Linked DNA regions of Homo sapiens. The protein of the gene in region 2 purifies or fractionates together with the protein of the main gene of each other region. This does not show direct contact. Each region holds a gene or a part of one and is shown on either strand. Other genes may lie near its edges. The genes, in order: TTK, SLC22A11, CPT2, RNASEL, KIRREL1, INTS12 and CNOT1.

Region 1 (4,359 bases), on a different chromosome or scaffold from region 2:
CATATAAAAACCTGGCTTTAGTAGTCTGTCCTCTGGAATCACAACTGTTGTTCCTATTCTGTAAATGCCCAAGTGAACCGGAAAATGATTCTTGGGCAGTTAATACCGTAGATGCTGTAAAAATTTTGAAACTATGATTAAATTTATAAGAAATAAGACAAGTACAAAAAAGTGATCTTACAAATAAGAATATTTTAAAAGTCAATTCATAGGAAATACTTGTCCCCAAGTAAGATATGCAGACATGAAGATGATACCAAGATAATTATCTAACTACTTCTTCAAATTCTCTTAAATTATATAACTATTTCCCCAGGGTAAAAGCACATTCTCTATTTCCAAAAGCAAAAAAAAAAAAATTCTCTTGCTTAGAGTTGTTTTTCATGTGTTAACGAAAGTTTAGTTAGCAAAAAAGACAAATTTGCATGGGGTTGTAGAGACTTTTTTACTTCTCAGTCTTACCTCCTTTACAATTTAATCTTAGATTTTAACCATTCTACATAAATAATATTTTTCTATAAATTATTATCCCGAATCTTTATTTGAAGTACTACCTACCACAGAAAGTATTAGTATACCTTAATAGTTACCTGATAAATTCTTCTTTTCCTCCTCTGAAAGCAGCTGCTTTTTTTGGAGGTTTAAATTCCGCAGGGCAATTTCCAGCATTTCTAGTGGTACTGCTCCACGTTCTACAGCTTTTTGAAGAAGTTGTTTACTTTTTTTGACATTACCTAACAAAGCAAAAGATAATTGTCATTTTTAGGCAGTAAAATGCCCACCACCCAGACCACCCAGATACGTATTCATCAGGACCTAGAAAAAAAAATCAAAAAGACTTAAGCAAAAATATTTATTCCAAGGCTCATGTATTTTATTTCATAGGCAAGTAAGCAATCTCTCACTTTTTATGCAGATAACCAACTCTCTTCTGATAACAATGCATACCAAATAGTTTCCTTGCAATATGTAGCTGACGTAATTTTGCATTAGTTTATCACCACTGTCCACTTTCAGAAGTAACAGAAGTGTAACAAAGCAGTTACCAACAGGGGACAGCAAAGGCCAATCACAACAGTTAGAAACAGGAGGGCATTCTAGATGTTACAAAAGTGCCAAGAGCATCAGTCTCTTACAACATGCTATAATAAGTATCATTCATAATGACATTTAGTTAAGGGAAGGATGACATCTTTTGTTAAAGAGCATCTTCCATCAAAAGGATTTTCGGGGAAAAACATAATAAATACAGATTAATCTTTAGCTGTCACACTCAGCTATACCAGCCTGAAAAAGAATGCAGAATAACTGAGGAACTATCATAATTACCTTTCTGAGTATGGACAGATTACCAAAAAAATTGGTAAACTTACCCCTAGCATTTGACATATAAATATTAAATGTATACATCACATATCTTACAGAATATTATCAACATTTATGGGAGCCATTGAGCTATGCTATGCACTTGGTACTTAGCGTATAAAAATGCTTAAGAGATGATCTCTAGCTTCTGGTAGTTTATAAATTTTTAAAAATATCTTTGATAGTGCTTACATCTACATTTACTAAGTAGTGGTAGAATTTCATGTATTGTGTATTTTAGCACAAGAAAAGAGAGAAAGGCTTAAGAAGCTTAATTAATCAGATAGCTTAGTATTGAGATCAGAGATTTCTTTAAGAATCTGGTAAAAACTGAAATGTCCTCCATCCCTATAAAAATACTCACACACCAGACTCTGCATAGGACTTCAGGGATGCTGCATTATTTCCTGACAGCCAAGCCATCAACTGTGCTCAAAATAATCATAATTTGACCACACTGCATTACTGTGCAATGCATTTGACCACATTGCATCACTGTGCATTACTACCACATTGCAGATAAAGTGGTATAGATAAAGTTCGTCTTTTTTACAGATAACTCAATTTAAGAGTTTCAATATTTACATGTTCTAAACATGTAAAATTTATGGTTGTTATTGAGAGGCCACAATACCTCAAGAAATTTTCAAGCAGAATGGAGAGAAAGAAGCCTTGCCAAATTTTCTCTAACAAGCAAGGAGGAATCCATTTTTCTAGAGAAGAAAGGGATAATAGTTCTAAAAAGTAACCTGATAGAGCAAAGGACATATTGGAGAAGACAATTACTAGGACTCAGAAATCATCTGAATGGGTAACAATTCAGGGTTCTCAAATTATTTCTGAGTCATATAATTATTTTCTCCAGGCTCAATCCTGGGGAATACTCTCCAGTGACCAATCCCTGCTATGGAAACCATCATGGGGATTCTTCCAATAGTGTTAATATGTTTATCACTGGCAGTAAATTGGATCACAGTTGTAGCAGAAACAAGGCAGTGGGAGAATGGAAACACCTGGCCAGAGGGCAGACTGAGGGTGTATCCAAAGGCCCTGGAAAATGAGAAAAGACTAAGGAATGGCCAGGTTAAAAATGTCTTAGGAAGAGATTGTCTTGGTCCTACCCAAAAAAATCCAGACTATGAAGAACCAAGTGAGCAAGAAATAGTTTCTACAGCAGTTTACTTTTTTATTTTAAAGAACTACCAATTAACGCTACACACACACACACACACACACACACACACACACACACAGATATATAGTTTACTTGACCACCAAGTTACATAGCTACACTTTAATGTACATTTTGGTGCTATGAAACCATAGCATAAGAAAAGTTTATGTAAGCTCTAGATATTTAAAGCTCTAGCTTAAATATCTGATATCCTTCTTCCTACAAATACTCAGTGAAGCAGCTACTTTCCTTTAGATGTTTCCTGAATCTAACTAGTAGCACATACACAATGTTCATGCTCATTTCCCTGGATTACTCTTTATACATGGAAAAGCTAGTATAACAGATATTCTCTGCATTTACATTTAGGTGGCATTTTCTCCCCATATTCTCATCTGATCAACTTTAATGTCTTTTGCCTCAAATTTCCACTTCATATATATGATTTAATATTAGGAAGTAAGTTGTAATAAGTTATCCTTTACTTAAAATTTGAATTTGACATTTTCAGATTACCTTGTGACAGTTCAAATTGTGCAAAAGATATATGAACAAAAGCAAATTTCTTGCAGTTTGCTCTGGCCATTTGAAAGTAGTCACGTGCATCATCTGGCTCTTGAATACTGTAATAAAAGATTTGAGTCAAAATTTAAGAAAAAGAACATAGCTACTTAAATTTGATAATGCTTCATTCAATTTTCCAAAAAACATGGGATATTGCTTTTTTCTGTGGGTAAAATTAAATACTAATAAGTTATTTTAAAAAAATCTTTTTAGGCAGTTTAAAATAAGTAAACTGTTGTGGAAACGTGCATAGAAAAGAGTTTACATTAGTCTCTTGTTAACTATAAGCAAAAGTATTTGGTAAAAAAATTAATATTTTCTCACAATACTGCCATGTTTTTTATTTTCTCTCTTTGCAGTGTAGTTACATATTATGTAACATAGTTGAACATAGTTAAAATGCTAATACTTACGCTTTTAATTCAGCAAATCTCACTTGAATTCTAGCAAAACTCTCATTTTGGCCATATTTATCTGGGGGAAGCGCTTCAATTGCTTGACTGTAACGACCAATCAATTTATTTAAAAGAGCATCACTTAGCGGAACACTGTTTTTCTCTAGTTTGAGCAACAAACTCAACCAGTCCTCTGGGTTGTTTGCCATCATCATAATTTGGTTAACAGTTCCCGAGTTATCTAAATAAGGGGAACAAAATATATCACAAGAAAAGACATAAAACAAATGCCAAATTGCATTTTTCCTTCAAAATATAGTCAAACATTTGTACTGTCAGTATCAATGTACATAAAGTCCTTATAATACTTTTTAAAATTGTAAAAGTTCATATAAATACAAGTAACTTATTTATCGTGTATTTATCTTTTATGAAGGTATACTTTATCCAAAAGCTATATATTTTGAAGGAAAGAAAACATTTGGAAATAAGTGAGTTTTTTTGTAAGTAGCCTTTAAAAATTGTATGTAGTTTAAGAAAATTTTATGCTGTTGCAGGATAACTATAATTTTAGCATCCTACCTATCCATAGAAAACTAAATCTCTCCCACTGCCACTTGTACTAATTAACTTAGAAAATTCTCCCATCAATGATTTATTCATTAAACCTACTGCTCCAGTCCTAACATAACCTTCTTTACAACCTTAACCATTCAACATTATCTCTGTATACCTCATACTTACTTGTAAAACCAAACCAGCTTTACAAAAAATAAACAAATGAGACAATCATTTTCTTCTCTCCAAGTAACCTAAATTTCTGCTAGAGGCCCTGATAATTTCTTGGTCCAACAAACTCAT
Region 2 (4,359 bases):
AGGGTCCCCCCCAGGACAGCTCTTCCCCTTGAGAGTCTCGACCCAGACAGAAGCAGTACAGTAGAGCCCTGGGGACATCTGGGCCTGTGTTTTCACACCATTTTGAGCCACAGAGTCATCTGTCCAGATGGAATCTTATAAGAATCCTGATTAGGAGACCAAGAGCTGCCCTGGTAGCAGTGGGGACCCTCAACTCACTTCCCACCACTCCTTCCCTGCCCCAAGAGAGCCCCAAGTCACCTCCTTGGAGCCCAAGGGCATCATAAAACACAAATGGAAAACCAGTGGTCTAGAGTCTAGGCCACCCCCACATTTGATATTTGGGTAAACTGAGGCTCGGGGTGAAGGACTGGCTCAGCAGAAGGGTAGGACTGGACTCCAGCTCTCCAGACTTTTAGCCCAATGTTCTTTCCACCACTCACTCATTTCTCCATATTTTAATTTGTTGTTTGGACAAGCATTTATTGATTTTGTTGATATCGTATGGAAAGCCTGAGTTGGGAGCTCAGTGGCCTAGCAGGAGTATGGAGAAGCCCTTAAGTTGCCCAAGAGTGGGGAAAATGAGGTGGGCCCTAGAGATTTCCCCTGAAACACTAGATGCAAAAATCTGGGTGGGCTCCGTGGAGGAGGTGGCATTAGAGGAGGCCTTGAGGAGGGCAATTCCCTCAGCCCAGCTTTCCTTCCCCTGGCATCTGTGAGCCCAGGATGTCTTCCTGCCACAGGGCCAGCTGTTACAGGGATCTGGGCCCTCCCCTTCACCCACAGGATGACAGCAGATGGCATTCTGCATACAGTGGGCCGGCTGGGGGCTATGATGGGTCCCCTGATCCTGATGAGCCGCCAAGCCCTGCCCCTGCTGCCTCCTCTCCTCTATGGCGTTATCTCCATTGCTTCCAGCCTGGTTGTGCTGTTCTTCCTCCCGGAGACCCAGGGACTTCCGCTCCCTGACACTATCCAGGACCTGGAGAGCCAGTGAGTGACCTGTGATCCCTGGGCATCGGGCTGGGCTTCCTCCTGGGCCAAGATGGAGACAGGCCTGGGCTGCCCAGGGCAAAGGCTCAAGAGTACCAAGGCCTGTGTTTCTGAAACCATTTAATCTTTCCAACAATCCTGCCAGAAATGTATTATTACTATCCCCATACTATTACTAGGGTCAGAGAAAGAAAGTGACTTATCCAAAGTCTCATGGGTAGAAAGTGATCATACCTCATGCAGGAAAATGTAATGGTTGAAAGCCCAGGCTTGGCAGCCAGGTTGCCTGGGCCCACGTTCCCCACCTGCCTGGGCAAGTGACTTAACCTCTCTCACCAAAACTGACAAAGGGAGATACAGATAGTCTCAACTGTCCTAGTGCAATTTTCCCACAAAGAATTTCAGGCCCAGACAGATCAACAGGTGAGTTCTTTCAAACCCTCAGAGAACAGATGGTGCCATCTCACACCCATTCTTTGACAGGGAGAAATGAGGGAGCACTCCCTGGCTGCATTTTATAGCCAGAACCACTTCTGTGGGCTTTAGCCTCCTCCTTTGTAAGATGGTGTTTAGAAAAAACAAACAAAACCCAGCCTGGCTCACAGAGTTGTTTTCAAGTTTAAGGGAAGTATTATTTTAAAGCACCTGGGAAAATGCCAGGCCTGCAGCAAGCACTCTGGACATGTGGTTATTGTGTCCTGGGTGACTGTTCACAGGGCCGCCTCAATTCTGATGGTGACCGAGGTCACAATGATAGTAATAATACTGAGTTCTTATTGTTTTATGTCACCTTATTTAATCGATACAACAACCACATGAGGTGCTATTACAGTCCAATTCCTTTGCCAAGGAAACTGAGATGCAGCAGGGTTATATAACTTGCCTAAGGACACCTGCAGAGACCCGGAGAAGCTGGGACTTCATTTTTTCTTTAATTTAATTGATTTTTGTTGTGTACCTACTATGTTTCAGGCACTGTCCCGCTTGGGTACACAGAAGGGAGTAAAAGCCTAATGCCATAGAGTTTACCCCCCAATAAGACTTGACCGCCATTTTGCCCCAAGCTCCGAGTACATACCCACTTCACCACATGGCACTGCTTTTCTTTGGATTATTCTAGGAAATCAACAGCAGCCCAGGGCAACCGGCAAGAGGCCGTCACTGTGGAAAGTACCTCGCTCTAGAAATTGTGCCTGCATGGAGCCCCTTTAGTCAAAGACTCCTGGAAAGGAGTTGCCTCTTCTCCAATCAGAGCGTGGAGGCGAGTTGGGCGACTTCAAGGGCCTGGCATGGCAGAGGCCAGGCAGCCGTGGCCGAGTGGACAGCGTGGCCGTCTGCTGTGGCTGAAGGCAGCTTCCACAGCTCACTCCTCTTCTCCCTGCCCTGATCAGATTCCCCACCTTACCCGGGCCCTACAGGAGCCTGTGCAGATGGCCATGCCCAACCAATAACGAGACGGTTCCCCTCCCTTTCCCTGCCAGGCTCATGTCTTTACACCTTCACTCAGCCACGCCAACCAGAGACTGGGTTCCAATCTCACCCCACCACATACAGAGCCCTCATCTGTGAAATGAGAATGATCACGTGACCCACCCCCCAGGGCAGGTATCAGGGTGAACTGATCTTAGCACCGGCCAAATAAATGGAACCTGCTGAGAGAGCTGCCAGATACAGGTGTCCAGGTTGTGCACTGGCCCGAGGCACGCAGCCAAGGAGGCGTGTGGGGTCTGAAACTCAGCCCCGGCTACACTGGCCCCACCACCCACCCTAGCAAAGGCTGTGTCCTCTCCAAAAAAAGGAGCTGTTTTAATCACTTTTCATTTACTCATCAGTGAGGGAGGGCTTCCAGCCCTATGGTTACGAAGACGGCCAAACACACCACCAAACACCAGACAGAGGAGGCTGGCAGCAGGTTACCACACACGTGCGCAGAGCCCACGAAGATGACGCTGCACTGAGGCATGGGGCGGGGTGCACTGAGGATCCGAGCGAGCAGCCAGGGCTGCAGGAAGGCAGCTTTGGAGCACAAAGGGGGTGGGGCAACTCCTGGCTTCTGCGGGAAGGTGTAATCAGCTTGTTTCATCATGCTGCAGGCTGGCGAGAAACGGAGCCTTACAAGCGTAGGGATAAGAGGAACCCCTCTTGGTCCCCTCGATGAGGGTTGTTGGGCCGGGGAGCCTCATCCACAGGGCGGAGTGAAAGGGGAGAAGGGGAGCTCACAGGCAGGCCTGCCAAGGCCTTCTGGCTTTGCCAGATGTCAAGGGCAGCACCTAATACTGAACCTTAACTTTCGGCTTTCAACCAAACGGCACCCTTTTGCTGTTTGTTTTCTGGAGGGGACACCTTTTCTTGATTCATGCCCAGACCTCCCTTGTCCAGGCCATGAAAACTCTGGGATGGTCGAGGCCGGCTGCCCATCTCAGATGGGCAAGGAAGCAAAAGTGCAGAGTGGTGGAGGGGCCAGCTTGCAGAAACACGGCCGAACCCGGCCCTGATCCTAGCCCAGGGCTCTTTCCAGCACAGGAGGCTCCTAGCCCTCGTCTCCAACCCTCCATGCCACTGATATCTGTGGCCCTGCCACAAAGTTACCCTCATGCCCTTCCCTGGAGACCCCACTCTGGGCCACCTCAATCTCAGGCCCCTCAACTCACCTCTTTCACCCTGTGTACACTGGGTCAATCACTCCTGCCTCCTCACAGCTCCCAAATCCACCTACTTCCCTTCACTCTGGCTACACCCTGGTTCACACCACGGTTGTAGCTCCAAACTGGTCCCTGATGTCTACATTGCACTCTGCACAACAGCCACCATGCTTATTAAGAAACGCAATCCAAACCAAATCCCTCCCTGCTGAAAGCCCTCCAGTGGCTCACAATAAGGATCACACTTCTCCCCCTGCCTGGTCAGGCAGCCATGGGACCCCAGCCTTTCCTCCCACTTCGGTAAATTTTAAAGGATTCGGATCATACAAAGAATGTTCTTGAACCAGCATGGAATTAAATTAGAAATCAATTATGGAAAGAGATATAGAAAACCTCTTCAAACTATACAACACACTTCTAAGTAACCCACGGGTCAAAGAGGGAATCTCAAAGGAAATGAGAAAAGATTTTGAACTGAGTGAAAATGAAAAAATGGCATATCAAAATTTGTGAGATGAAGCTAAAGTAATGATTATGGGGAAATTGATATCATTAAACACTAACATTAGAAGAGAAGAACGTTCCAAATCAAATACCTCAGCTTTCACCTGGAAAGTAGCAAAAGAAGAGTTTATTAAACTTATAGTAAGCAGAAGAAATAATACACAAGAGAAATCAGAGAATTGAAAAAACAATAAAGAAAATTAGCGAAACCTACAGGTGGTTCTTTAAGATCAATACAATT
Region 3 (3,500 bases), on a different chromosome or scaffold from region 2:
ATTAACTCAAAATTACAAGCCAAAGTCTCATCTGAGTAAAGGCAAGTTCCTTCTGCCTATGAGTCTGTAAAATCAAAAACCAATTAGTTATTTTCAAGATACACTGGTGTTACAAGCATTGGGTAAATGCTCCCATTCCAAAAGGGAGAAATTGGCCAAAACAGAGGGGCTACAGGCCCCACGCAAGCCTGAAATCCAGCAGGGCAGCCATTAAATCTTAAAGCTCCAAAATAATCTTTGACTCCATGTCTCACATCCAGGGCATGCTGATGTAAGAAGTGGGCTCCCAAGGCCTTTGGTAGCCCTGCCCCTGTGGCTCTGCAGAGTACAGCCCCATGGTTGCTTTTACAGGCTGGCATTGAATGCCTGTGGCTTTTCCAGGCACATGGTGCAAACTGTCGGTGGATCTACCATTCTGGGGTCTGAAGGGCAGTGGCCCTCTTCTCACAGTTCCACTAGGCTCCCCATTGGGAACTCTGTGTGGGGGCTCTAACCCCATATTTCCCATCTGCATTGCCCTAGTAGAGGATCTCCATGAGGGCTTCACCCCTGCAGCAGACTTCTGCCTGGACATCCAGGTGTTTCCATATAGCCTCTGAAATGTAGGAGGAGGTTGTCTCTTTTTTTTTTTTTTTTTTTTTGAAATGGAGTCTTGCTCTGTCACCCAGACTGGAGTGCAGTGGTGCTATCTTGGCTCACTGCAAGCTCTGCCTCCTGGGTTCACGCTATTCTCCTGCCTCAGCCTCCCCAGCAGCTGGGACACAGGTGCACGCCACCACACCCGGCTAATTTTTTTTGTATTTTTAATACAGACAGGGTTTCACCATGTTAGCCAGGATGGTCTCGATCTCCTGACCTTGTGATCCACCCGCCTTGGCCTCCCAAAGTGCTGGGATTACAGGCGTGAGCCACCGCACCCGGCCGGACGAGGTTTTCAAACCTCAACTCTTGTTTTCTGCACACCTGCATGCCCAACACCATGGGGAAGCCTCCAATGCTTGGGGCTTGCACCCTCTGAAGCAATGGCCAGAGCTGTGCCTTGGCCCCTTTTAGCCATGGCTGGAGCTGGAGTGCCTGGGACACAGGGCACCATGTCCCGAGGCTGCACAGAACAGCAGGGCCCAGGAAACCATTTTTCCCTCTTAGGCCTCTGGGCCTATGCTGGGAGGGGCTACTGTAAAGATCTCTGAAATGCCCTCAAGACATTCTCCCCATTGTCTTGGCTATTAACATTTGGCTTCTCATTACTTATGCAAATTTCTGCAGCTTGTGGCTTGAATTTCTCCCCAGAAAATGGGTTTTTCTTTTCTACTGCATGGTCAGGCTGCAAATTGTCCAAACTTTTATGCTCTGCTTCCCTTTTAAACATAAGTCCCACTTTCACATCATCTCTCTGTGAATGCATATGACCATATGCTTTCAGAAAAAGCCATCTTGAATGCTTTGTTGCTTAGAAGTTTCTTCTGTCAGACACCCTAAATCACCCCTCTCAAGTTCAAAGTTCTGCAGATCTCTAGGACAGGGACAAAATGCCACCAGTCTCTCTGCTAAAGCACAGTAGAGTGACCTTTGCTCCAGTTCCCAATAAGTTCCTCATCTCCATCTGAGACCACCTCAGCCTGGACTTCATTGTCCATATCTCTATCAGCATTTTGGTCAAAACCATTCAACTCTCTAAGAAGTTCCAAACTGTCTGACATCTTCCTGTCTTCTTCTGACCCCTCCAAACTGTTCCAACCTCTGCCTATTAACCAGTTCCAAAGTTGTTTCCACATTTTCAGGTATCTTTGTAGCAATGCCCCCCTCCTGGTACCAGTTTTCTATATTAGTCCATTTTCACACTGCTATAAAGAACCACCTGAGACTGGGTAATTTATAAAGAAAAGAGGTCTAATTGACTGACAGTTCCTTGTGGCTGGGGAGGCCTCAGGAAACTTACAATCACAGCGCAAGGTGAAGGGGAAGCAAGGCACATCTTATGTGGCAGCAGGAGAGAAAGCGAACAAGTGGGGGAACTGCTGAACACTTTTTAACTATCAGAGCTCGTGAGAAACCACTAACTATCATGAGAACAGCATGGGGAAAACTGCCCCCATGATCCAATCACCTCCCTCCAGGTCCCTCCTTCAACACGTGGGGATTACAATTCAAGATGAGATTTGGGTGGGGACATAGAGCCAAACCATATCAATCACATTAGAGCAAAGCCTGTAACTGACAAGCCTCACCCCCATCCACATAGCTTCCAAGAGCTTTTTAATATCTCACTCATATCGAAGACAACACAGGATTATGAAGCATCTGAAGAAAGAAAAGGGCAAAGCAAACAGAAGAAAAGCAACTTGGAGGCAACAGACTATGAAGAGAGAAGAGATCTTAAAAAAAAATTATCAGAGATAAACTATTTTTAAAAAGAACACCATAAGAAGAAAAAAGAGCTTGTGGAAGTAAAAAATAGGAAAGCAGGAGTTTTAAAAACAGGTTGAGAGATTAAAATTAAGTAAGTCTCCCAAGAAAATGTAACAAAAAGAGTAAGAGATGAAAAATGTGAGAGAAAAGAAAATTAGAGGATGAGACCCAGAAATTCTACACCTGAATAATAATAGAGTTCCACAAAGAAAAAACAGAGAAAAAAAATGGAGAGGAAGAAAGCCAAAGAAATAAAACAAGGAAATATCCCAGACCTGAAGGATGAGATTCCAGATTCAAAGGACTCACAGAGTGGCCCAACACATACTAAAACACATTACCTGAAATTTCAAAACACTGGGGACAAAGAGAAAATTCTAAAAAGCTTCCAAAGGCAGAGAGAAGAAGTAGTCAAAAGATTAAGTCTCAGAATAACATTAGATTTACCAACAGCAACACTGGATGCTAAAAGACAATGGAGCAAAGCCTCCAAAATTCTGTGGGAAAATAATTTCAAACCCAGCCAAACAAATTATCAATGAAGTATAAGGGCCATTTTAAAATTTTTGCTTCCCATATTCTGTTTCCAGATAGTACAGGGAATATGTGCTCTGATTTAAAAAAAAAAAAAAAGAAAAAGAAAAAGCCAAGAAATAAGAAAATATGAAAGACAAGAAACACGAGTCCCAACATGAGAGAGAGATGACAGATGCCCCAGCTGATGGTGAAAGAGCACAGGAGAGCAGCTTCACAGTAGGCCAAGAGGTTCACAAATCCAGACTACAGCATGTCGCAAGTTCTGGAAGAAGTTTCGTCAAGAAGACCAAAAGGGATAGAATGTCCAATCTGCTTTCATGTATTGAGAGGAGATTCAGACAGCTTGGGAAGAGTCTGGGGGTAAATTAGTAAGCACATAGAAAACTAAACAAGAGAAAAGATGGAACAATTATTAACTTCAGAGAAAACAAAAAGTTTGTACTGGAAAGGAAAAACAATCCCAATATGCTACATGAGTCAGCTGACAATAGTGTTTCTATGATCATAATAGCATAAAACTAGATACTGAGTTACCCAAAATTACAAATCCCTAT
Region 4 (4,359 bases), on a different chromosome or scaffold from region 2:
GGAATTTGTAGGCTTGTTAGGGAGGGAAGGCACAGATGTGTGCATACAGACCTCTTCAAGGCAGTATATCGCCCATACCACTTAGTTTTATGAAGAGTAAAAGATACATATAAGTCACAGTTGTTAGGGCAGACTGCTTGGAGGAAGAGAGATTTGAGCTGGGCCTCAAATGTATGGACAGAATATAGATAAATTGAGGAAAGGGAGAATGCTTTAAACACAGGGAGAACTGACAGCCTGGCTGGAAACTGGGACTTTGGGTCTGAGGCTATGTCACGCAGCAAATAAAAAAGTCAGTCCAGGCCAGGAGAGGCAAAGTGATGACCCCAGGGATTAGGCCGTGGCCAGGAGGAAAGGCCAAGAAGAAGGTCGCCTAAGGAACTCTTTGCACTAGCCACCAGTCAAGGAGGGAGCTGAAATCTGATGCCACCAAACCAGGAGGCCAGACATATGGGTGGAGAGTCTCACCCACTGGGTTGAAAGTGCAGCACCCTGTAAAACTCTCCAGGAAAGACCTACCCTGACAGGGTCAGAATCAGCCTGGGGGCTTTGGTCTACAGCGGCCAATCTCCATGTCCCCTCAGGAGCAACAGCTATTTCAGAGTCCTCATCTTTTTGGCCAAGCTTAGGTTCTTTCAAGCTGGGAATTGACCTCACTCCTCCCAGGAGTTTTCAGAGAACCTTAGTATCCAGCCTTCTGCAGAGTGTAGCCCACGAGTTTGAGTTTGTGGTGAAAGAAACCTCACTTACTTTGTTCCTAGGTAGAAAAATAACTCCTCAATGAATATTGGAGATATTTGAAATTCTCTCCTGGAGAGAAGATGTGGCATGCTCAGTTTATTTACTTATTAAGGTAGTGGAGGAAGAGAGATTCAAAGAGATACAGTAAGGGTCCACAGTGACAGCCAACTCCACACCGACCCAAGCTGTTGCACCTTCCCATTGTCATCTTGAAAGCTCTGCTGCGGGAGAAGCCCAAGGAAATGCCATGGCCTACAGGGGAGTCAGGACAGTGAGCAAGATGGGGAAAGCCTTGAACATTCTTTTTTTCCTGGTTAAAATAGAATGCCCTCCAATTGCCCATAGGAAATAAGGTAATGAACTGTGACGGTTAATATTGAGTGTCAACTTGATTGAGTTGAAGGATACAAAGTATTGTGACTGGGTGTGTCTGTGAGGGTGTTGCCGAAGGAGAGCAACATTTGAGTCAGTGGACTGGGAGAGGCAGACCCACATTCAGTCACGGTGGGCACCATCTAATCAGCTGCCAGCATGGCTAAAATAAAGCAGGCAGAAAATGAAAGAGCAGACAACTTGCTAAGACTTCTGGCCTTCATCTTTCTCCCGTGCTGGATGCTTCCTGCCCTCAAACATCAGTATCCAAGTTCTTCAGCTTATGGAGTTTTGGACTTACACCAGTGGTTTGCCAGGGGCTTTCAGGCCTTTGGCCACAGACTGAAGGCTGCACTGTCGGCTTCCCTACTTTTGAGGTTTTGGTACTCAGACTGACCCATCACTGGCTTCCTTGTTCCTCAACTTGCAGATGGCTTATTATGGGACTTTATGTTGTGACCGTGTGAGTCAATTCTCCTTAATAAACTCCCTTTCATATATACATATGTCCTACTAGTTCTGTCCCTCTAGAGAACCCTGACTACTACATGAAAGAATAAGGAAGCAGAAAGAAGAAAGGTAAACTGGATTGTAGAATTTACCTCTAGATCTCTCTTGACTTCCTGTGGATCTCCAGCCCACTTGATGCTCTTATCAAAATCTGCCAGGTGAGCAGCTTTCTTAGAATCTAAGGAAAAGTTTGCAGAGGCACATTGAAAATACTCATTCTCCATAAAGTGAGAGTCAATTGATTTATATAAATATGTAACATGCTATAAAAATCATCATCTCTGTGGAAGGCAATAATAAACCTTATATCTGTATTTGCCATTCACCCCTCAAAACACTGCCATGTGCACTGTTTCATTTGATCTGTTAGGTATCTGCCAAGAGCAGCACTTACATTTTATTTTTTCCAGGCCAGGGGGTAGGAAGGGATGAGGACAAATTTAACCAGCTCCTCGTTCATGCAATTCCAGGGGCCGAAAGCACAGATTTGTAAAGGAGCTGTTCCCTTACACTGAGCTTAAATCTCAGTGCATGTCTATGGATAAGGTATGTACTCTGCTTAGACCTTTCAGGCAAGAACAGCCTTTCCTGAGCACCTATGATGTACCAAATGACTTACTATTTCATCATTGCACTTAGACCTCATAACAAACTTACGAAGGAGGCATTATCAGCCTCAAGTGAGGAACTGAGGCTCACAGTATCAAGTGACTTGTCTGAGGTTACAAAACTACAAACTAGTGAGACTAGGCTTCAAGCCACCCTAATCATCGCTGAAGCCCTGGCTTGCTCCCCCGCACCATATTGCTTCCTGGGACTTTACGGTCAGCCTTGCTTTTCTTTTAACATTTAAAAGAAAATGCTATTTTCCTTCCCTTTGTTTGGCTTGGACTAGTGGATTCTGACTTGTTCTGCCTTGGAGTCTGTGTCTTCACTACGTCACATCTTGTCCTGACATCCTCAACTTTGACCTCAATTTTGTCAGTAAGTTTCATGGTTACTGCCACCTTGTCTGAAGGAACTCACCTCTAGGATTCTCAGATTTCTGGAGCTACTTTGATCCATGACATGCCTTCATCTGTTTATTTTGCCAATGGCAATCTAAGGCTAGCCTGGTATTCTGTTGGCATCTACCAACCTTCATGTAGACTAACAGAACCCAGTTATAATTGGTAGCAGGAGACACTGCACTGTAATTATGAATTTGTTGTAATAATGATCCACAAATTGAATCATCCACATTTACTCTAGGCCTTTCCTCTCTGCAATGAAAAACTTTTCCTATCATAAACAAAGATCCCACAATTTCTAAGAGAGAATTGGGGATTGGGGACTCACCTATTAAGATGTTTTGTGGTTGCAGATCCTGGTGGGTGTATCCACAGGACAAGTGTAGTTCTTGAACAGCCTTAAATATAGATGACAGGACATTTCGGGCAAATTCATCTTCCTCATTTTCCACATCTTCCCCTCTGTGCACATCCAAACACGCTTCCAGAGTCTGCTCACAGAGGGTGACACACACAAACAAGTGGCCCCTGTGGCTCTCACTCCCATAGAATGTCACCAAGTGACTGTTCTCTCGGCTGCTTTGCAGACAAGAGACTTCCCGCTGTGCACGTGGGCTGCCCTCACAGAACGTCTTCACAGCTACTTCTTGCTTCTCATAGAACCCCAGGTAGATGCCTCCTTCTGAAGTATCAGCAATTTTGTATTTTTCATCAATAAAGAACTTGAGTTTGCCAATCATAGGGCGGTATATTCTGTGGAGATCCTTCAGGGCTGCCCCCCAGTGTGAGCTCTGAGGCTTCCAGTCTTCAGCAGGAGGGTGAAAATCTTCTTTGGCTCCATGAGAGAGAAGAACCTTCACAAGGGAATGGTCATAATTCCGCCTCGCTGTCATAACAAGATCCCCACAATCTGTACTGGCTCCACGTTTGCACAGCAACTCGGCGATTTTCTTCAGTTTGAGTTCAACAGCAAGCAGCAGTGCTGTTTTGCCATCACTGTCTGTGTCATTAATCTCTATGTGCTCTTGCTCCAGAAGCCTCTGCACCAAACCCAAGTGCTTCTTCTCCACTGCCAGGATCAGGGGAGTCTTCCCTCTTTCTCCCCTCACATTGACATCAGCCCCATGGTCCAGCAGCAGATGCGTAATAGCCTCCACATCACTATCGTCAGAGCTCAGGAGAGCATGGATCAAGGCATTTCTGCCCATATTGTCACAGGCGTTTACATCTGCCCCCATCTCATCAAGGAGAATCTTCAAGACCTCTACGTGTCCTTTTTCAGCAGCGTCCATGAGAGCTGTGGCCCCTCCTTTCCTCAGCCGCTCTTGATCCTCCTTTGTCTTTCGCCTCAAATTCACATTTGCTCCTCTCTTATAAAGGAATTTTAGGGCTTTGACCTTACCATACACAGCGGCTTCCATGAAGGCTGTGAAGCCATAAAAATCACACTCATTGACATCTGCTCCTTTAGAAAGGAAAAGTTTCAGCAGCTTCACGCTCCCCGCAATCGCTGCGAGGATAAAAGGCGTGGCCCCATTCTTCTTCCTCAGAACAGGGTCAGCACCATGACGAAGCAGAAGTTCCACAATGTCCTCCCTGCTCATTTGTACTGCGTTATGCAGAGGTGTCCAGCCCCCTTCCTCTTCCTGGAAATTAACATTGGCTCCACCTTCCAGCAATTGCTGGACCAGGTCAACATCTTCGTTTTGAACAGCTTTAATCAGCA
Region 5 (4,359 bases), on a different chromosome or scaffold from region 2:
ACCCCTCTCATGTCTGTGTGCTCCTGAGTCTGTGGTGAAACCCCTGTGGGAAAGGAGAGGTGAGCTGGGCTAGGCCCAGGAGGAGCTGGGGGAGCTGGCTGGAGCTCACCGTGCTGGCCACAGCGCCCTCCTGCTGCGTCCCGTCCCGGAACCAGATGATGGTGGCAGCAGGCTTCGCATTGAAGGCCCGGCATGTGAGGTTGTGGGGGGTGCCTGCCTGCAGTAGAATCACAGGGCCTCCGTCAATCCTGGTGTCCTCTGGGGGGACTGTGGGAGAAAGCAGAGCAAAGTCAGTGCAGGGTGTGGCTAACACTTCCCTGAAGACCAAAACTCCTGCCTCTGGAAGCATCCTTCCACCTGCATGTGCGCCTCTAGGTAGGCGGTACCACCCTACCCCCTAATCTACAACCACTGTCTTCATTGCTCTTGTGGTGGCTTCCTCTAGGTCCTCAGCTCACACATCTTTCCCAGTCCTTGTCTGCTTTTCTTTCCTGGCCTATAATATTTTCTGGTACTCCATGCCCCTACTGGTTTATTGTTTGTTTGTTTGTTTGTTTTTGAGATGGAGTGTCACTCTGTCGCCCAGGCTGGAGTGCAGTGGTGCCATCTCAGCTCACTGTAACCTCCACCTCCTGGGTTCAAGCGATTCTCCTGCCCCAGCCTCCCAAGTAGCTGGGATTATAGGCGCCCACCACTGCTCCCAGCTAATTTTTGTATTTTTAGTAGAGAGTAGGGGTTTCACCATGTTGGCCAGACTGGTCTCGAACTCCTGACCTCTCAGGTGATCCACCTGCCTCAGCCTCCCAAAGTGCTGGGATTACAGGCGTGAACCACTGTGCCTGGCTCCATACCCCTACAGTTGCTCAGAGCTGCACACTACAGATGGAAGCCTCAAACTTAAGAAAGGGCTGGGCTATCTCAGGCCCTGAGTACAGCTCATAGTCTTGGGAGTCTGGCTCGGAAAGGTGGCTACCTCCATAGCACTTCTCCCATCCTTCCTCCTGTCTGCTCCTCTGCCCTGGAGCAGACAGATGGGCTGGCCTATTACAGTAACCTCCATGTCACACTGCTAGCAGGTTATTTTTCCCTTCAGCACAGCTAAGTATGTGCCACTCCCCTGCTCAAGCACCTTCAATGGCTACAACTGCCTAGGGCATAAGTTCCAAGCATTTCGGCCTCCTGTTCAGGGTCCTCAAGCCAAGACCTGCATTGCAGTGCTTTCCATATGGCATGCCCTTCTCCCACAGCTTCTATTGAAGTGCTTCCTATCCTGTTCAAATCCCAGTTGATGCACAAGGCTTTCCATGCTGTAGCCCACCCCCACCATGGTGGCCCCCACCAGTCACTCAGAGCTCTTAGCGCCTTGGATTTTGTTTACTTATAACAGTTATCGAACCCTGCCCCAACCAAAACTGTGATCCCCTGGAAAAACAGCAACCCTGTCTCACTAATATTTATATGGTCACCAGTGCCTAGAATGTGACCAAGTAGGCTCTTGCTAAATGTTTAAAGAATTCAATTGACCGATGTATGATGTTGCAAACAAGGGGGGCTCTCCCTCCCCTATCTCCATAGGCTTCTAAGACAAACCAGACTGTAAGTTCCCTGAGGGTAGCGGCTGCTTCTGATATACCATCAACACTTCAATGTCTAGCCCAGGGCTTGGGTGATCACAGGTGCTCAGGGATATTTGCTGAATTAATGAATGGATACTGATGAAATAAAGGCAGAAGGATTTTGATTATAATTTTTCTGGTCCCCCCAGTGTTCATCAACCATAAATGAGAAAGGAACTCCTGGGCTCAAGCAATCCTCCCACCTCGGCTTCCCAAGTATCAGAAACTACAGGTACACACCATCATGCTTGGCTAATTTCTATTTTTTGTAGAGACGAGGTTTCGCTATGTTGCCCAGGCTGGTCTGAAACTCCTGGGCTCAAGCAGTCCTCCTACCTCAGCTTCCCAAAGTGCTGGGATTACAAGCATGAGCCAGCGTGCTCCACCGATAAAAGATTTTGTTTGCTTCTTTCTGGGAAAGACAAGAAAGACCCAGAGGAGGGTCCAGAGGGAACACTCGAGAGGAGTGTGCAGAGGGAACACTCAAGAGGAGATCTTGGGAGACCCACGGTGCCCAGTGGTGGACAGGGCTGTTCTAGAATTTACACAATGAAGGTCTCTATGCTGGGGTTTCCAGTAGAAACTACTCGAAACCTGTCTTAGCATTCTGTTCAACTCATGTGTGCCTAGTGGTATAGTGGAAAAAGAATAAAACTTAGATTCAGACTGCCTGGTTTCAAATCCTGGCACCTTTGTTTACCTGCTGTGTGATCTCGGATGAGTTCCTAAAATCACTGAGTCTCAGTTTCTTCATCAGAGAAGAAACCAAGACATAACCATACTCACTAGAGCCTCATGAAGGTCAGATGAGATACTATACATAGACTATGATGTGCAGGGCATGTGTGAGGTATGGAATGTATTAGCCTTACTGCCTGGACGAGAGTAGCAGTGGCTCCAACTCCTGCCTGGCTAATTATCCTCTGAATCCCTGGCTCTTCCTCCTTGTTCTGTGGTGTATCTGGTTCCAATGCCAGATGGGGACAGGTTTGAGGATGGGGATGGGGAGCAGCTTGAAAAGTAGAGAAAGGTGGAGAGAAATGAATAAAGAGCTGCTGCTCAGGGCCTCCTGGTCTGCTCAGGCCCCTCTAAAGTCACATGTTGCTGCCACACCCAGGAGGAAGATCCTGGATGGGCAGAGCCCCGAGCAGACAACATGCCCAGGTGTGTGCCCGGGTGTGTGAAGCCCCTCCGCTGGGAAGGCATCAGCTTCCTCTACCCTGGGAATGCCTCCTGCCCCTTTGTTCATGCAAAGACTACCCATCTGTCACCTCTGCCAGCAGTCTACCTTTCTCTGAATTTTCCAAACTCTCTGCCCATCCTCCGTGAGCTCATCCCTCATATATGAGCTCGTCCCTCATATATGGGACAAATGACAATAAAGCTGTTAAGGTGCCTGCTGAGCCAGCTGTTAAAGGGCATGTGTCCATGTGTGCATGTGTTTATAAGCAAGTTTTTATGGTTTGTGACTTAAATCTGTATATCAATATGCTCATGTGCCTCCCCAAACTCATGTGCCCCTGAGTCTGTGGTCAAAAAAGCCTCAGTCTCCTTGTTTATAAAACTTCAAAAATACAATGGACACCTACTCCCCTGATTTTGCAAAACAAAATCAAGAAGGTGAAGCCAACTGTAAATGGTGGTGGGATCGACAATAACTTCTGCCACTCAGTGAACGTTCACCTTGTGTCAGCCAAAGTGCCTCCTGTATATGACTTCATTTAATCCCTACCACAAAGTATATTTCATTATTCCTTTCATGGTAAATATATTAACCCCAATTTACAGATAAGGAACGGAGGCTCGAAGAGGATAAACAAATGTGCTCAGAGACAGGAGAGTGAGTTAGAGGGCAGAGCTAGGATGTGGACCAGGCTTGCCTGACCCAGAAGTCATGCTCATCACCATGGTTTTGGAGGTCTGTATATCTATGTTATGTCTGCATCTGCGGGGGAGTGGGAGGCTTCTTTTCAAAGTCCTACCCTAAGGAAGAATGACAGAGGCCATTTTGTGAAGAGGGCCCCTGGCCTGGGGAGCTGGGGGGCTGCTGAGGGGGATGGCTGGGGAGGAGAGGAGTCTATAAGGCTGACATCATGCAGGGAGGCTGATACCAGGCACTGGGCACAGCCCACTCCTCATTTCTGCCCTGCCTAGTCTCTGGGTCCCCCAGCTGCCATGAGCAAAGGCTGTGGGTAAGCAGGTACGCAGGAAGGGATGCAGGAAGTGTCATGCCTTCTTATTGCCTCCGTGTGCTGCAGGTGGCAGGGTGTTTGAGAATTTAAGAGAAAGACAAGGAGAGGAAAGAGTGAAGGGAGAAGGGCCTCCTGGTCTGCTCAGGCCCCTCTAAGGTCACATGTTGCTGCCACACCCGGGAGGAAGATCCTGGATGGGTAGAGCCCCGAGGAGACACCATGCCCAGGTGTTTGCCCAGGCGTGTAAAGCCCCTCCAGCTGCACTAACCGTCCCTGTCTCTCTTTCAGCTTAAAGTTACTCCTGGGGTCTCTCCCTGTTCTCTCATCCACCCAAGTCACCCAGGCAGGCCAGCAAGGACCATACCTTCAATACCCACCATGCCCTCGAAACAAGCCAGTCGGCTCTCCTGCTATGTAGCTCTCCTTCATTGGCCTGCAAGCTTTTAAACAAGGCACTCTTCCATCTAGGGTTCCCCTTGATATTCTCCTTTTCCAGGTTCTTCCTGGATTGAACCAAGCCACTGGGTGCCATTATAAGACATTGTTACTGC
Region 6 (4,359 bases), on a different chromosome or scaffold from region 2:
GATTAGGTGACAAGAGTCAGCACCTAGATTACAAGACTGCGGAAGTCATCAACACCAACATTCCAGTTGGAACCTTGGAGTCAGTTCTTTTTATGCAATCTTGCCATTATAAAACTTAACAGGCTTTGTACCCCTCCCCTAAATTACTAACATGGCCCTTTGACCCAGTGGTCCCCATGGTGGAATACAGAGAAAAAAATATTAACTTTTTAATTTATTTCTATTTCTTTTTTTTTTTTTTTTTTTTTTTGAGACAGAGTCTCGCTCTGTCGCCCAGGCTGGAGTGCAGTGGCATGATCTCGGCTCATGGCAAGCTCCGCCTCACGGGTTCATGCCATTCTCCTGCCTCAGCCTCCCGAGTAGCTGGGACTACAGGCGCCCGCCACCACACCCGGCTAATTTTTTGTATTTTTTAGTACAGACGGGGTTTCATCATGTTAGCCAGGATGGTCTCGATCTCCTGACCTTGTGATCCACCCGCCTCGGCCTCCCAAAGTGCTGGGATTACAGGCGTGAGCCACCGCGCCCAGCCAATTTATTTCTATTTCTATTTATTTTTTAAAAATCTATTCATATACAGAGTGATAATAGTGTGTTATATAATTGATCTTTAACCTCAAGGAGCTTTATCTTCAGCCAGTGAAATCTGAAACTTGCCACAACTATTGTCCTCTTTTATTACAATCAATTCTCCTTTCTGACTACAATCTTCCATTACTCTATCTCTTCCACTGCCTTAATCCAGGGACCTCTTCAAAGTGCCAAGTCAATCTTTCTTCTGTATTTATTCATTTCTCTATTCCCATTCTACTTGTTCTTTGTTACAGAAGCCTCCAATTTCTTGTCCCTTCTGCTTTCTCCTTATTGGCACCCTCTTGCCCTGACTTTTGTTTCCTCACCAAACAGAAAACAGTAGTTGAACCTAAAATAAAACACTTATGGTTATGTGGTTTATATTTTATATTTTAGTTTTCTATCTTACCTTTACTCCCCCTTTTCTGTTGCCTTCTCTAATCTCTGTTACTTTTCCTTCCTTACCGGCAAATATCCATATAGTGAAAGAAGTTTACTTTCTACAGCAGTCATAAAGAGGTCAGCAACTTGGTGTAACTGTGTTGATCTACACATACAAAAATATTTTCCTGGAGTTACACCAAATCATGTTACTTCTATACAATTCCTTTCCTGTATATTCATTCCTAAACCCATGGCCAAAACAGACTGCAAAAGAGCCATATCATTCTTACTATGGATTAGAGTTCTAGAAAACAAAGTCCTGTGTGTGTGTATGAAAGAAAAATGTATATATGAAAGATATTTAATATATTAAATGTAGGTTTCATTTAAAAAGTAGATGTTGCTTTCAAAAAGGAGAATGTGAGAAAATTAATATTTACCACTTTAAAGCTTTCGCTGACCTAGGGAAGTGGTAGTAGTAGTATTGATAGGAGTGAATTCTTAGGTGATGCTGGGAATTAGCTGTGTCAAATGCATATAGCACAAAAATCGCCATTACTGAACAATGATCTTTTTTCTGTATCTCTTATTATCCTTGATTTATTGCAGTATGCCGTTTACTTCCTATCCAGCTCACATTCTGTGGTCCACCCTTTCAATACCTCTTTCAGTACTCTAGGCACCCGAAAGCCCTGTAGTTTCCCTACTTTATAGACATCCACCCTGCTAGCCATTCTCTCTCTGCCTGCACCCAAACTCTAAGTGCAACTGGGAGGAATATACATACATTCTATCTTCAGAATCACCATTCTCAGCTTGGCGTTCAGTACAACTTGGCAATTCTCTCATCCTTCTCTGGTCAACTCACTTCCCCACTTTCTGCAAAGATCAGTTATACTTCCTCCATTTTCTTTTAAAATTGCTTCTGTGTTTCAGTAGATGGCCTCACCTACTTCACAAAGAGAGGCTGTCAGAGAGGAATTAAGTCGACTTCCTTCCAGCACATCTACAAACTTACCTGCACTCATCCTTTCCTCTTTCCCATCTGATAAAAAAGGAGAAGGTAGCTCTCTATGTAGTGTCACCTGGATCTGGATCCTATCTCTTCTTGTCCCCTCTTGAACCTTGGCCTATGGATTATTTCCCATATCTTCTTTTTTTTTTTTTCAGCCTTTCTACTGGCATCTTTTCATTGACATTAAATATATTCAAACATCTTCTATCTTTTCTCTTTTATAGCAAAACGTTCTCAGAAATCATATGCTTTTGTACTCTTTTTCTTCATTCCTTCTATTTACACAGCAATTCTTGCAATTCAGCCTTTGTCCCACTATTCCATGAAAATGCTCTCATGAGTCATTCGCCGCCTCAGTCAGGTAAACCTAATACATACGATTGTCCCTCCTACTTCTTTGTCAGTCATCTTTGTAGGTTCCTCCTATCCAATTAAAAATGAGTTCCTCAGTGCTAGGTTCTGGGTCTCTTCTTGACTTGTTCTACATCTTCTTCCAAAAATGTGTTCTCTGAGTCAGCAGCATAGGTATCACGTCAGAACTTAGAAATACAAACTCTTGGTCTCCATTCCTAGGCCTACTGAAGAAAAAACTCTGGGAGTAGGGTCTAGAAATCTGTGTTAAGCCTTCCAGGCAATTCTATCTACTCTAAAGTTTGGGAATTATTGCCCTAGACAATTTGATCTATATAGTCTTTTGCCAGTGATTACTAATACATCTCTGCAGTCCATGTGTCTCTCCCAAGATCCAACTGCCAGCTTGACATGGATATATCATTGGTGCCTCCTATGCAACGTGTCTCCAACAGAGCCACTCATACACTATTCCCTTTTCTCCTAACCAGTTCTTCCTCTAGTAATCCCTTTTTCAAATGATATTTACCCTATTGCCCAAGCCAGTAACCCAGAAGCAGCTTTAACTCTTCCCACTTCCTTAATTCCCACCCCCAATTCAATAACCAAACCTCTTAAACATACCTCAAATCTATCCACCCTTTTCAATCCTTACTACTACCACCCTAGACCAACCTAGCATCATCTATTATCTGGCCCACTGCAAAAGCTTAATCAGTCTCCCACAATCACTCTTGTCATCCCTTTAAACCTTTTCATATCACTCACTTGCTTAAAATCCTTTTATCACTTCTCACAATCCAAAGGTTCAAGAATAAGATTCTTAACAAGGTCTCCAATTCTCTACATCAGGGGTCCCTAACCTTCAGGCCATGCAGCAGGAGGTGAGCAGTAGGCAAGCGAGGGAAGCTTCATTTGTATTTACAGCCACTCCCATCACTTGCATTACTACCTGAGCTCTGCCTCCTGTCACATCACTGGTGGAATTAGATTCTCATAGGAATGCGAATCCTATGTGAACTGTGCATGTGTGTGATCTACGTTGTGTGCTCCTCATGAGAATCTAATGCCTGATGATCTGTCACAGTATACCCCATCATCCCCAGATGAAACCGTCTAGCTGCAGGAAAGCAAGCTCAAGGTTCCCACTGATTCTACATTATGGTGAGTTGTCCAATTATTTTATTATATATTACCATGTAGTAATAAGAGAAATAAAGTGCACAATAAATGTAATGCACTTGAATCATCCTGAAACCATGTCTTCAATGAAACTGGTCCCTGGTGCCAAAAAGGTTGTGGACCATTGCTCTACATGATTAATAATACATATAAAGCAGTTACAACAGTACCTGACACATAGTTGACACTCATTAAATGTTACCTAGTATCTTAGGCCATTCTCACTCTCTCTGTTATAGCTATCTGACTTATTTCAAGTCCTCCAATATACTCTTTCTTACCTTAGCACTTCAGTAGAAAGTGTGCCACCCCCACCTCCATCTTAAGTCACCTCTCAAGTTTCAGTTTTTCCTGCACATTCCCTCAACAAAACTAGAAGTTTCACTGTTACATAGCCCAAAAACATTCTGTACTTATTTGTAATATTAATCACACTGTTAATTATGTAAATAATCTTTCTTTCTCATTAGAATGTAAGTTCCATGAAGGCAGGCAGTGGATTGGTCTTGCCTACTGTTGTAACCCCTGTCTGGCAGAGTTCCTGGAAAACAGCAAATAACTGTAAATGTTGGCCAAGTAAATACTTGTTATCTACTTCCAATTTCATAAAACTTTCTCTTCCCTTGAGTTCTGTTATACTCAACTTTTCTGTTTTTCCTCTTCTATCTCTGACTACTCTTTCTTTGGCTTATCTTCTTTGTTGCTTTTGGTATTGTCCAAGTATTTGTCCTTGGCTATCTTCTTAGTTCTGCTAGCAGTTTCTTCTTGGTAATCTTATACACATCAGGTTTTCAACTATCATCTCTGGGTAGATGATTTAATATGTTTTACCCCAACTTCAATCTCTTTTTTTT
Region 7 (4,359 bases), on a different chromosome or scaffold from region 2:
CTAGGCTGGTCTCAAACTCCTGGCCTCAAGTGATCTACCTGCCTTGGCCTCCCAAAGTGCTGGGATTAGAGGTGTGAGCCACCGCGTCTGGCCTGCTTTACTGATTTTAAGGCATGTTCACAATAAACTGATAAGGTGTCTAGGATATTTTTGTCTTAAAAGTGAGGAAGCTGTTAAGACTGTTTCAAGATCACAGCTTGTTCATAAGTAGAGTCAGAACTTAAAATGCATTTGCCAAATGCACTGCATTTTCTACTATCCTGTCTGTCCACATCAACTTTCAAGTCTTTTTCCTTCTATTCCCCCCACCCCCCCACCCACCTCCATTAATAGACTGCTTCCCCACAACAAAGAGAAATGATGGATCAGGCAGCTGCTCAATTAGCTCAGGACAATTGTGAGTTGGCTTGCTGTTTTATTCAGAAGACTGCAGTAGAAAAAGCAGGCCCTGAGATGGACAAGAGATTAGCAACTGTAAGTGTTTAGAATTTGCCTTTTAAGATTTTCTTTTTTAATTTAGGGAAGTGCCTTATAACAAGAACCTCAGTGACTTTTTTTGTTTGCAGGAATTTGAGCTGAGAAAACATGCTAGGCAAGAAGGACGCAGATACTGTGATCCTGTTGTTTTAACATATCAAGCTGAACGGATGCCAGAGCAAATCAGGCTGAAAGTGAGAATTGGGGCTCTGTCTTTCCCCGTCCCATCTTTGTTTTATTTTTAATGTTGTTGTTGATTGAACTCCTTACTGGAATTAGGACAGCAGGGTTAAATATTGTTTATGAGAAAACATCTTAACTTGATAGCATTTCACTGAATGGCTGCCTGTGGAGGAGGTATGGAAATAGCTCTAAATTCCCTTGCTCCTCCAGAGTTGTTGAAGTGTTATTACTCTAAGGAGTTCATGTGCCTGCTAGTTTTCATGTTTCCCAACTTGGGCTTCTCACATTAATGGTTGCTTATTGTTCCCAGTGAGACAGTGAGAAATCTGATAATATTTACCAGCTTCAAGGGAGAATTGCACTGGCATCGTCCCATGTGAGGCATTTTCCAAGAGAAACTCTCAGTTAATTTATAAATGAGGTGACTCTTAGCAGGATTCAGGGAAATGAGAAGCCCTCTTCTGAACTGCATTTGTGTGTGCGTGCATGCTTAATCATGCTGTTATATGTTGTAATGACTCTTGTGTCCCTGAGCTTACCCACATGCAGACTTTCCACTTTCAAAACAGTTTATTTTGATTATTGAGTGAATTCTGTCAAAATAGGTTTTCTTCTTTCAAGGTTGGTGGTGTGGACCCAAAGCAGTTGGCTGTTTACGAAGAGTTTGCACGCAATGTTCCTGGCTTCTTACCTACAAATGACTTAAGTCAGCCCACGGGATTTTTAGCCCAGCCCATGAAGGTAAATGTGTTTTAGATTAAATTGAGTGTTTTGCCAATTAATTTAAATGTTTTTGACATTTAATATATGTTTTTGACTTGCTTCCTGGGAGAATAATTTACAGGGGAAAAAACACCTATAGTTTTTGAGTTGTAGGTATTCTTTGTGTCCAATTAAGTATGACATACAGGGGATTAAAGAAAAATTGACATGGGTGTGGGTGATTTAACTTTAATGTTCGGCCTAATTAGGGGAATTCTCATGGTAACATAATAACTTTCGGTTTTTTATTTTTAAATTTTATTATTTATTTTTTTGAGACAGGGTCTTTCTCTGTCACCCAGGCTGGAGTGCAGTGGCGCGATCTCAGCTCATTGCAACCTCCACCTCCCAGACTCAAGCGATCCTCCCACCTCAGCCTCCTGAGGAGCTAGGACTACAGGCGTGTGCCACCATGCTCAGCTAATTTTTGTATTTTTTGTAAAGATGGGGTTTTGCCATGTTGCCTAGACTAGACTCAAACTGCTGACCTCAAGTGATCGCCTACCTTGGCCTCCCAAAGTGCTGGGATTACAGGCCTGAGCCATTGTGCCCAGCCTTCCCATTTTTTAAATAAAAGAATTTTCTAAAATTTTCAAAGGTGTTTACAGAAAACTTGGAAATATAGGGAAAAATATTTTCCCCCGAACCGGTCGATAGTAAGTTGCTGACCTGATACCCCCATCGCTCCTGAATCCTTTGGTTTGTATTTCTTACAAAACCTTTTTCCTTTGGTTTGTATTTCTTAAAAAACCCTTTTCCTGTGTGACCATGGTACAACCATTAAGGTCAGAAATGAATACTAATAACCTTACTCCATCTAATTCATAGACCTCACTCGAGTTTCACCATGTATCCCAATAATGTATAGTAAAAGACCTGTTTTAGAATCACACATTTCTTCAGTTGTCATATTTTTAAAGTCTCCCTCAGTTCTAGCTGGTGTAGGTAACTCAGTTTTTCCTCATCTTTCATGACCATAACACTTCTGAATATTATAGGCTAATTATTTTCTAAATGACTTGATTTGTTTGTCCAGTGTATTCTCATGACTAGGTTCAGGTAATGTGTTTTTAAAAATAGGAATAGCTCAGAAGTAATGCTGTATTCTTACTCTATCCTATCAGGCTTTGACAGTTGGACTGAGTACTGTATTTTTCATGGTTTGAAACACTTACTTTCTTAGGATATAGAGGGCTTAGTAGATGGTACAAGTGGTGCTGCCCTCAGTCTGTCTCATTGTTACTAATGCTCTCTTTTATCACTTGATTATGCTGCTGTCTGCCAGGTTTTCCTCTCTCAAATGAAACACCTCTTCCCTTATGCCTGCCTTGTACTGTGCCACTTGATGGTATTAATTCTGAATAGCTCAGGAAGAAGGAAAAGAAGAGGCCCTCCATGTTTGAATGTAAAAATAAGAAAAAGGGAGTAAACATACTAGTAGACCTCTATTTGATACATGTGTCAATAAAAAACCTTAACATTCTTTTGTCTCTTGTTGGTTGTTTCCTTCTGTAAAACAGCAAGCTTGGGCAACAGATGATGTAGCTCAGATTTATGATAAGTGTATTACAGAACTGGAGCAACATCTACATGCCATCCCACCAACTTTGGCCATGAACCCTCAAGCTCAGGCTCTTCGAAGTCTCTTGGAGGTTGTAGTTTTATCTCGAAACTCTCGGGATGCCATAGCTGCTCTTGGATTGCTCCAAAAGGTTGGTTCTTAAGCTATTACTTTTAGAAAATGCTAGGTGTGTAAACATTTATTGACCTGCACCACCATCTACATATTTATGCAGTTATGCTTAAGATTTCATAATATAAATCAAGTTCTGTAAGTAGGTGATTTTTTTTTTTTCCAACGTAGAATGTAGTCATGGCAGTTTTGAATGGTAAACTTGGAAATCTTCATTTTTTTTCTTAAAGATATTCTGGAAATGTGATTTGAAGAAACTTTAAAAGGTAGCCCTTTAGAGGGGTGTGTGTGTCTGTGTGTGTGTGTGTGTGTGTGTGTGTAAGAGACAGGGTCTCTCTCTGTCAGGCTTGAGTGCAGTGATGTGATCATGGGCTTAAGTGAACCTCCCACATCACCTTCTCGAGTAGCTGGTATTACAGGTGCTCACTGCCAAGCCAAGCTAATTTTTAATTTTTTTGTAGAGACAGGTCTTGCTTTGTTGTCCAGGTCGTTCTCAATCTCCTGGGCTCAAGTGGCCCTCCCTCCTGAGCCTCCCAAAGCGCTAGGATTATAGACATGAGCCACTGAGCCCAGCTGCCCTTTAGATTTTGAGGGACAAGTTGATCCAATAATTTGGATCAGGGTAGGTAGGGAGCCCTGGATTTTAACTACAGCAGAGCCTTTTATGACAATGAAGAGCACAGAATGAACTTAAATCAGATAGAATTTAGAGTGTGTGTGATAGGCAACTGAAAGGGATGTTTGGAGAGTGGAAAGGACAGGGAGGCTTTGGAAGGTATTTGGTACTTGGCATTGAGATTTGGTTTCTGGCTGTGATAGTTGGGCCAAGCACTGTATTTTTCATGGTTTTGAACGCTTTCTTTCTCCCATAGGCTGTAGAGGGCTTACTAGATGCCACAAGTGGTGCTGATGCTGACCTTCTGCTGCGCTACAGGGAATGCCACCTCTTGGTCCTAAAAGCTCTGCAGGATGGCCGGGCATATGGGTCTCCATGGTGCAACAAACAGATCACAAGGTCAGTAGCCATCTTCGAAAAGTAGTGAGTATTGGACTGCGACTGCCTTTTGACATAGATAGTACTGTTTATGTCCAGGGGTTTCCCTTTTTTCTAGTAGGTAGGTCGGACACTTAGACTTCCTACTTCTGAGAGGTGAGAATTGTTAAGTAGTTGTTTTCCATCTGGTCTCTACCTTCTCCCCATGTTGGATATAGAAAACCAGTACCTTGTTTTGGGGAATAAATTG

Evidence for each region.
Region 1: the proteins of SLC22A11 (region 2) and TTK purify together in Homo sapiens (affinity purification with mass spectrometry; one large-scale study listed by BioGRID and IntAct). This does not show direct contact.
Region 3: the proteins of SLC22A11 (region 2) and CPT2 purify together in Homo sapiens (affinity purification with mass spectrometry; one large-scale study listed by BioGRID and IntAct). This does not show direct contact.
Region 4: the proteins of SLC22A11 (region 2) and RNASEL purify together in Homo sapiens (affinity purification with mass spectrometry; one large-scale study listed by BioGRID and IntAct). This does not show direct contact.
Region 5: the proteins of SLC22A11 (region 2) and KIRREL1 purify together in Homo sapiens (affinity purification with mass spectrometry; one large-scale study listed by BioGRID and IntAct). This does not show direct contact.
Region 6: the proteins of SLC22A11 (region 2) and INTS12 purify together in Homo sapiens (affinity purification with mass spectrometry; one large-scale study listed by BioGRID and IntAct). This does not show direct contact.
Region 7: the proteins of SLC22A11 (region 2) and CNOT1 purify together in Homo sapiens (affinity purification with mass spectrometry; one large-scale study listed by BioGRID and IntAct). This does not show direct contact.

What each region holds. Positions count from the first base shown.
Region 1 is NC_000006.12:80,007,189-80,011,547, reverse strand, and holds part of TTK (dual specificity protein kinase TTK), read right to left. Parts: intron 3,740-4,359; coding exon 3,517-3,739; intron 3,163-3,516; coding exon 3,056-3,162; intron 735-3,055; coding exon 591-734; intron 115-590; coding exon 1-114.
Region 2 is NC_000011.10:64,568,887-64,573,245, forward strand, and holds the end of SLC22A11 (solute carrier family 22 member 11), read left to right. Parts: intron 1-765; coding exon 766-972; intron 973-2,092; coding exon 2,093-2,156; 3' UTR 2,157-3,989; downstream 3,990-4,359. UniProt on the Homo sapiens protein: Antiporter that mediates the transport of conjugated steroids and other specific organic anions at the basal membrane of syncytiotrophoblast and at the apical membrane of proximal tubule epithelial cells, in exchange for anionic compounds.
Region 3 is NC_000001.11:53,203,324-53,206,823, reverse strand, and holds part of CPT2 (carnitine O-palmitoyltransferase 2, mitochondrial isoform 1 precursor), read right to left. Parts: intron 1-3,500. UniProt on the Homo sapiens protein: Involved in the intramitochondrial synthesis of acylcarnitines from accumulated acyl-CoA metabolites.
Region 4 is NC_000001.11:182,582,366-182,586,724, forward strand, and holds part of RNASEL (2-5A-dependent ribonuclease), read right to left. Parts: coding exon 2,962-4,359; intron 1,802-2,961; coding exon 1,716-1,801; intron 1-1,715.
Region 5 is NC_000001.11:158,080,330-158,084,688, reverse strand, and holds part of KIRREL1 (kin of IRRE-like protein 1 isoform 1 precursor), read right to left. Parts: intron 268-4,359; coding exon 110-267; intron 1-109. UniProt on the Homo sapiens protein: Required for proper function of the glomerular filtration barrier. It is involved in the maintenance of a stable podocyte architecture with interdigitating foot processes connected by specialized cell-cell junctions, known as the slit diaphragm.
Region 6 is NC_000004.12:105,701,904-105,706,262, forward strand, and holds part of INTS12 (integrator complex subunit 12), read right to left. Parts: intron 4,072-4,359; exon of another isoform or gene 3,976-4,071; intron 3,488-3,975; exon of another isoform or gene 3,411-3,487; intron 1,907-3,410; 5' UTR 1,745-1,906; intron 1,121-1,744; exon of another isoform or gene 983-1,120; intron 1-982. UniProt on the Homo sapiens protein: Component of the integrator complex, a multiprotein complex that terminates RNA polymerase II (Pol II) transcription in the promoter-proximal region of genes.
Region 7 is NC_000016.10:58,538,543-58,542,901, reverse strand, and holds part of CNOT1 (CCR4-NOT transcription complex subunit 1), read left to right. Parts: intron 1-333; coding exon 334-474; intron 475-566; coding exon 567-671; intron 672-1,281; coding exon 1,282-1,401; intron 1,402-2,942; coding exon 2,943-3,134; intron 3,135-3,987; coding exon 3,988-4,130; intron 4,131-4,359.